Regions from separate parts of the Homo sapiens genome. Here all the other regions are linked to region 3. Evidence: fine-mapped QTL for protein levels in blood plasma. A gene starts in region 3. Each other region holds a variant in brackets. All regions are shown on one strand. Distances are between the middles of the regions.

Region 1 (2,763 bases), 60 kb before region 3:
GTCTGCTGTATTCAGGAGACCCATCTCACGTGCAGAGACACACATAGGCTCAAAATAAAGGGATGGAGGAATATCTACCAAGGAAATGGAAAACAAAAAAAAAGCAGGGGTTGCAATCCTAGTCTCTGATAAAACAGACTTTAAACCAACAAAGATCAAAAGAGACAAAGAAGGCCATTGCATAATGATAAAGGGATCAATTCAACAAGAAGAGCTAACTATCCTAAATATATATGTACCCAATGCAGGAGCACCCAGATTCATAAAGGAAGTCCTTAGAGACCTACAAAGAGACTTAGACTCCCACACAATAATAATGGGAGACTTTAACACCCCACTGTCAACATTAGACAGATCAACGAGACAGAAAGTTAACAAGGATATCCAGGAATTGAACTCAGCTCTTCACCAAGTGGACCTAATAGACATCTACAGAACTCTCCACCCCAAATCAACAGAATATACATTCTTCTCAGCACCATATCGCACTTATTCCAAAACTGACCACATAGTTGGAAGTAAAGTACTCATCAGCAAATGTAAAAGAACAGAAATTATAATAAACTGTCTCTCAGACCACAGTGCAATCAAACTAGAACTCAGGATTAAGAAACTCACTCAAAACTGCTCAACTACATGGAAACTGAACAACCGGCTCCTGAATGACTACTGGGTACATAACAAAACGAAGGCAGAAATAAAGATGTTCTTTGAAACCAACAAGAACAAAGACACATCATACCAGAATCTCTGGGACACATTTAAAACAATGTGTAGAGGGAAATTGTTGGGAACAGGCCCCCCAAAATTTGGCCATAAACTGGCCCCAAAACTAGCCATAAACAAAATCTCTGCAGCACTGTGACATGTTCATGAAGGCCATGATGCCCACGCTGGAAGGTTGTGGGTTTACCGGAATGAGGGTAAGCAACACCTGGCCCACCCAGGGCAGGAAACCCCTTAAAGGCATTCTTAAACCACAAACAATAGCATGAACAATCTGTGCCTTAAGGACATGATCCTGCTGCAGATAACTAGCCAGACCCATCCCTTTATTTTGGCCCATCCCTTCATTTCCCATAAGGAATACTTTTAGTTAATCAAATATCTATAGAAACAATGCTAATGACTGGCTTGCTGTTAATAAATACGTGGATAAATCTCTGTTTGGGGCTCTCAGCTCTGAAGGCTGTGAGACCCCTGATTTCCCACTTCACACCTCTATATTTCTGTGTGTGTGTCTTTAATTCCTCTAGCATCGCTGGGTTAGGGTTTCCCCGACCGAGCTGGTCTTAGCAGAAATTTATAGCACTAAATGCCCACAAGA[G/A]AAAGCAGGAAAGATCTAAAATTTACCCTCTAACATCACAATTAAAAGAACTAGAGAAGCAAGAGCAAACACATTCAAAAGCTAGCAGAAGGCAAGAAATAACTAAGATCAGAGCAGAACTGAAGGAGACAGAGACACAAAAAACCCTTCAAAAATTCAATGAATCCAGGAGCTGGTTTTTTGAAAAGATCAACAAAATTGATAGACTGCTAGCAAGACTAATAAAGAAGAAAAGAGAGAGGAATCAAACAGATACAATAAAAAATGATAAAGGGGATATCACCACCGATCCCACAGAAATATAAACTACCATCAGAGAATACTATAAACACCTCTACGCAAATAAACTAGAAAATCTAGAAGAAATGGGTGAATTCCTGGACACACACACCCTCCCAAGACTAAACCAGGAAGAAGCTGAATCCCTGAATAGACCAATAACAGGCTCTGAAATTGAGGCAATAATTAATAGCCTATCGACCAAAAAAAGTCCAGGACCAGACCGATTCACAGCCGAATTCTACCAGAGGTACAAAGAGGAGCTGGTACCATTCCTTCTGAAGCTATTCCAATCAATAGAAAAAGAAGGAATCCTCCCTAACTCATTTTATGAGGCCAGCTTCATCCTGATACCAAAGCCTGGCGGAGACACAACAGAAAAAGAGAATTTTATACCAATATCCCTGATGAACATCGATGCAAAAATCCTCAGTAAAATACTGGTAAACCAAATCCAGGAGCACATCAAAAAGCTTATCCACCACGATCAAGTTGGCTTCATCCCTGGGATGCAAGGCTGGTTCAACATATGCAAATCAATAAATGCAATCCATCATATAAACAGAACCAAAGACAAAAACCACATGATTATCTCAATAGATGCAGAAAAGGCCTTTGACAAAATTCAACAGCCCTTCATGCTACAAACTCTCAATAAAATAGGTATTGATGGGACATACCTCAAAATAATAAGAGCTATTTATGACAAACCCACAGCCAATATCATACTGAATGGGCAAAAACTGGAAGCATTCCCTTTGAAAACTGGCACAAGACAGGGATGCCCTCTCTCACCATTCCTATTCAACATAGTGTTGGAAGTTCTGGCCAGGGCAATCAGGCAGGAGAAAGAAATAACGTGTATTCAATTAGGAAAAGAAGAAGTCAAATTGTCCCTGTTTGCAGATGACATGATTGTATATTTAGAGAATCCCATTGTCTCAGCCCAAAATCTCCTCAAGCTGATAAGCAACTTCAGCGAAGTCTCAGGATACAAAATCAATGTGCAAAAATCACAAGCATTCCTATACACCAATAACAGACCAACAGAGAGCCGAATGAGTGAATTCCCATTCACAATTACTACAAAGAGAATAAAATACCTAGGAATCCAACTTACAAGGGATGTGAAGGACCTCTTCAAGGAGAACTACAAA
Region 2 (2,763 bases), 15 kb before region 3:
TTTCTTTCTCTCTTTCTTCTTTTTTTGAGACAGAGTCTCGCTCTGTTGCCCAGCTGGAGTGCAATGGCGCAGTCTCAGCTCACTGCAGCCTCCACCCCCTGGATTCAAGCGCTCCTCCCACCTCAGCCTCCTGAATAGCTGGGATTACAGGCACCTGCCACCACACCTGACTAATTTTATTTTTAGTAGAGATGGGGTTTTACCACGTTGGCTGGGCTGGTCTTGAACTCCTGAACTCAAGTGATCTGCCCACTTCGGCCTTCCAAAGTGCCAGGATTACAGGCGAGAACCACCACGCCAGCCCAGCTTGAGCATTGATTTCTATCTTCTTTCCCTTGTAGACATCAAAACAATAGTTGAGATTTACTGGGATCAGCAAATACCCTCGGGGCAAACCTTTAGTTTCCATCTCTGAGGTTTCCATTTTTTTCCCTTTAATTTTGTCTGGTTGGTTGTTTCTCTCTTGCTAAGTCTTATTAGCTCTTGTTTCTAAACAAAAAATTTTTTAAAAAATTTATCTGTCAGTTTTACTTGTTTTCAGTGGTAGGCTTGGTCCAAATAACCTTATCCACTATTACTAGAAATTAGGGAATCCCACTGAAAGGTTTTGGGTTGGCGCAAGTGACATGACATGAAATTTTTCATGGTGATGAATATATTTTACATTTGACCGGCATATTTAAAAAATGCTTAGCATCACTAATCATCGGGGAAATGCAAAGTAAAACCACAAGGAGATATCACCTCACACCTATTAGAATGGCTGTTATCAAACACAGACACACACACACACACACACACACACACACACAAAGACACGAGATAACCAAAGTTGGTGAGGATGTGGAAAAAAAGGAACCCTTAGGAATGTAAATTAGTACAACCGTTACAGAAAGCAGCATGGAGATTCCTCAGAAAAACTTAAAAATGGAACAACCACGTGACCCAGCAATCCACTACTGATATATATCCATAGGAAAGGAAATCAGTGTAGTGGCCCCCGCTTATCCATGGGGATACAAGTACTTAATTAAGTACTTGTCATGCACTGTGGCTGTCACTTCTGCGATTTGAGATGTGACAACAAAACTAGCATGAATTTCTTTTTCCTTCTTCACAATTTCATAGATAGAAGCTTCCTTCTTATCATAGCTCTTAGTAATTTCAGCCTACAATATTTTTTCTTTTCTTACTAAGTTGAAAACGTTCACCTTTTCACTTCAAGGAAGCACTCTGTGGTGTCTCTTTGGCATACTTGAATTGTCACCATCACTACTCTTGTGCTCTGGGGCCATCATTAAGTAAAATGAGGGTGACTTGGACACAGGCACTGCTGTACTGAGACAGTTGATCTCATTACTGAGATGGCTACTAAGTAACGTCTACAGTGTGGGTATGCTGGACAAAGGGCGGATTCATATC[G/A]CCAGCAGGATGAAGCGGGAGAGTGCAGGATTTCATCATGTTACTCAGAACAGTACACAATTTAAAACTTATGAATTGTCGGCCGGGCGCGGTGGCTCACACCTGTAATCCCAGCACTTTGGGATCCGAGACGGGCGGATCACAAGGTCAGGAGTTCGAGACCAGACTGGCCAATATGGTGAAACCCTGTCTCTACTAAAAATACAAAAATTAGCCTGGCGTGGTGGTGGGCACCTGTAGTCCCAGCTACACAGGAGGCTGAGGCAGGAGAATCACTTAAACCCAGGAGGCGGAGGTTGCAGTGAGCCGAGATCAGCCACTGCACTCCAGCCTGGGGAACAGAGGGAGACTCTATCTCAAAAAAAAAAAAAAAGAATTGTCTATTTCTGTAATTTTCCATTTAATATTTTCAGGCCATTGGTGGTGGTGTGTAACTGAAACCACAGAAAGCAGAACTTTGGATAAGAAGGGGCTACTGTATATCGAAGAGATATCTGCACTCCCATGTACACTGCAGCACTATTCACAATAACCAATGTGGAATCAACCTAAGTATCTATTGATTGACGAACAGATAAAGCAAATGTGCTGTACATACACAGTGGAATATTATTTAGCATTAAAGAAGGAAACCTTGTCATTTGCATGAACATGGATGAACCTGGAAGACATTATGTTAAGTGAAACAAGACAGGCACATAAAAACAAACACCATATGGCCTCACTTATATGTGGAATCTAAAAAAGTTGAAACCATAGAGGCAGAGAGCAGAATGGCAGTGACCAGGGGCTGGATGGGGGTGGAAGTGTTGGGGAGATGTTGGTCGAAGGATACAAAATTTCAGTTAGAAAGGAAGAGTAAGTTTAAGAGATCTATTGTACATGACGGTGACTGTAGTTAACAGGAATATATTGTGTACTGAAAATTGCTAAGAGAATACATTTTTTTATGCTCACCACAAAAAATGAGAAGTACATGAGATAATTTATATATTAATTAGCTCAATTTAGCCATTCTACAATGTGTATGTGTGTAACTGTATATATTTAGGTTATACAACATAATGTATGTTATGTATACACACACATTATGTTGTATAACCTAAATATATATAATTTTTCTCAATTTAAAACATTTTTCAATACATCTGATTGGGGTGGTGGTTGCATGGGTATATATACATACACATATGTGTCAAAGTTTGTCAAGCTGTATACTTCAAATGGGTACCTATTTGTAACCTGTTACTCTATGCAAATTATAATTTTTAAAAATTGATTTAAAAAGTAAGAACTCTGGCTTCTGGTACAGAATGAATTATACAGTGGCAAGAGGCCCTG
Region 3 (2,763 bases):
GAGAAAGGTCTGGGTTTTATTTTTCCTTCTCCTTTTCTTAGGCTAATTACCATTCATCGCAATCCCTTTCCTAAACCCTAATATCTTCCCAGTTTATAAAGTGCTCTCACATTTACAATATTTAATCTTCCCAACCCTGTGAGGTCAATATTATCCATATTTTGTAAATGAGGAAACTGAAGGTCCTCATGATCAAGTGATTCACCTAAGACCATAGCTTGTGGGTGGCTGAGCCCAGGGCTGCAGACCCTAATTTTAATGTTCTCTCCTCTACCCCATATTGCGGAGGGCAGGCAGGCAGTCCCCTGTCATGGGGCTCTGCAGCTCTCCATGGAACCAATAATGGAGAAGAAAATTGCGTTGCATTTTCTAAGTAGTCAGCTGGGATGGCAGGAATTTATTTATTTTATTTACTTATTTATTTTTTGAGACAGAGTCACGCTCTTGTTGCCCAGGCTGGAGTGCAGTGGCACGATCTTGGCTCACTGCAAGCTTTGCCTCCCAGGTTCAAGCAATTCTCCTGCCTCAGCCTCCCTAGTAGCTGGGACTACAGATGCCCGCCACCACACCCAGCTAATTTTTTTGTATTTTTAGTACAGACAGGGTTTCACCATGTTGGCCAGGTTGGCCTCAAACTCCTGACCTCAGGTGATCCGCCTGCCTCTGCCTCCCACAGTACTGGGATTACAGGCGTGAGCCACTGTGCCTGGCCATGGCAGGAAATTTTGATGGGCATCTACTTACCTGCAAGTGTGTTGTGCTTTCTTAATTGAGGGGCATTGTTAGAGGATTGTTAGAGGTAGTGGTGTTACTTGACTGGGTCTTCTGGGGTGTTGATGTGCACAGGGGAAATTTGGATTTCCCATCACTTTGTGTGATGACCACACAGCCCCTAAATCTCACCTAAGTGTGATATGGAGAAGCTGAAAGAAGCCACTACATTGTCCACATGAGCTAGGAACAGTGACTTTAGGTCTTACATTAAATCTTAATTCTGCCTTAACTTTGCTGTGCAACTCAGGCCAGACTTCTCCCTCTCTGGTTCTCAGAACAGCCCTGGCAGCCAAACCGAAGTTATCTCCTATGCCAGCCTGAGACTCCACTCCCTTTGCAACCTCCTGGAGAAGATAACTTAGGGAAAGACTGTCACTGCTCAGAGGAAGCATCCCAAACCCCTCACTGGTTTAGGAATTTAACACTACCGAGCAACGGCCCCAGAAGGCAAGGCGATTGTTAGGAGGAATTAAACAGGCTAGTGCTGGACCCAGCCATCCAGTCCTGGCTTACACAGAGGTTGCTTTTCATGCCTTTTCACTCTGTTAATTTGGCTTGTTTTCCAAACATGGGTCAAACAACCCCTCTCCAGAAGCGGCAGCAGCAGAAGGAAATGTTATTAAAAATGAGTCTGTTAGTGGGAATGGTGTGTGGATGAAGTCTTTGGGAGTTTTGGCTGCCAAATAAAGACTTTATTGTCATTCCTCCTTTCCCAAGCTCCCTCCCTCTCTCCTCCCCTCCCCTCCCTCCCTCCTCCCTCCTCTCCTCCCCTCCCTCCCTATGATCTGCCCCTCCCTCCCCCCAAGCTAACCTCCCCACCCCAATAGGATCTGGTGGAAGAAAAGTCAGGCAAACACAAGCACGCACACACCACTGGGAGATCAGATCTTCTAGCTGGCTCTCTGCTGCCACAGCTCCGCCGAAGGGAGGGGGTGGAAGAGGAGGACTAAACTCAGAGCTGAGAGGAGAGGCAGGTGTGTGCAGGTAAGCCCAGTTGGGAGATGGGCAGGAGACTGGGAAGAATCTTTCATCCAGTAAGTTTCCTCCAGCTCTGTCCATTTATTGATCTAGTCTCTATCCTCTCACTCCTTCCTTCCTCCCACCTCTTTCTCCTCTCAAATGAGTTCAAATTTAGTCTTCCTAACTTCTTTCCTATAGCCTCTTCCTTTTCTTTTCATCACTCTGTACCCCTATATTTGCTTACTGCAAAAGTTAAGCTTTCCTGCTGCAGATGTTTGTTGTAGCACAGAGAGCCACGCTGCACAAAGTGTTTCTACAGATCAGGTGTTTCCATAGAAACTGGACTCCAGAACCCATTTCTTTGCACCTTTTGTGTATTGTCACACATTGTGGAAGTCACACACATCACACGGAGGCTGCACGTTCACTACCATCACCCCACACGACCATACAAAATGAAGACATCCTGTCCATTCACCTCTGCCCTCTGCATCTGACATGCAGAGCTAGACCACATCATCACCAGACACCAGCAGACACACACACACATGCATGCACACATGTTCCCTGCATCTTGTCTCTCGCCCTCTCACACACACCTCCCTAGCTGTAAGAGCAAAGATAAAGTACGTTTTCCCACTGAGATGGCAGAGCCAGAAGAAAATCTTGCATCCCAAGTCCAGGCCGAATAGGGAGGAGATAAGCAAGAGCGGGAGCTGGAAGGGTTTCTTCATTATTTAGGGCTTCACTGGGTAGGAGGGAGAGAAAAACGGCTTTTTCCAACCTGCACAGTGTCTTCTCAGCAGCTTTCAATTTCTGTCTCACTGGTCCAAACCACTTGGCTTTTGGAAAGAAAGAAGAAAGCGACCCAGTTCCCAATCCTTGAAGGTCCTAATTCCCAGCTCTGGGGACAGTTCATTTTTTTATTTTTTTTTCCTGCAGGCAGCCAGAAAAATATTTTTCTTTAAAGCCGTTCTGAAATTATTCCAACCATTTAGGTTGGCAAAAGGTCCTGTGGCAGAGGAGAAA

Alleles and levels. Alleles are on the strand shown, and positions count from the first base shown. The strength of an association depends on the size of the effect and on how common the allele is.
In carriers of allele A in region 1, the plasma level of the protein whose gene starts at base 1,626 in region 3 tends to be lower than with G alone (weak association).
As copies of G replace A in region 2, the plasma level of the protein whose gene starts at base 1,626 in region 3 goes up (moderate association).

Evidence for each region. A credible set is the group of variants that fine-mapping cannot tell apart. PIP is the chance, under the fine-mapping model, that this variant and not a neighbour inherited with it causes the effect. Protein levels are from antibody-based Olink assays in UK Biobank. Linkage for the fine-mapping came from a reference panel and not from the study's own genotypes, which makes the PIPs less certain.
Region 1: its variant is the best candidate, but not a certain one, in a credible set for the plasma level of the PRELP protein (UK Biobank, PIP 0.56).
Region 2: its variant is the best candidate, but not a certain one, in a credible set for the plasma level of the PRELP protein (UK Biobank, PIP 0.72).

The regions. Positions count from the first base shown.
Region 1 is chr1:203,413,681-203,416,443 of GRCh38, forward strand. No RefSeq gene overlaps it. Among named protein-coding and RNA genes, the nearest start is that of BMNCR, 7.4 kb to the left of the region's middle. The variant G/A (reference allele first, on the strand shown) is at 1,328.
Region 2 is chr1:203,459,073-203,461,835 of GRCh38, forward strand. No RefSeq gene overlaps it. Among named protein-coding and RNA genes, the nearest start is that of PRELP, 15 kb to the right of the region's middle. The variant G/A (reference allele first, on the strand shown) is at 1,423.
Region 3 is chr1:203,474,181-203,476,943 of GRCh38, forward strand. It overlaps PRELP (proline and arginine rich end leucine rich repeat protein), which reads left to right and starts at 1,626. Exons shown (of 3, transcript NM_002725.4): 1 at 1,626-1,758.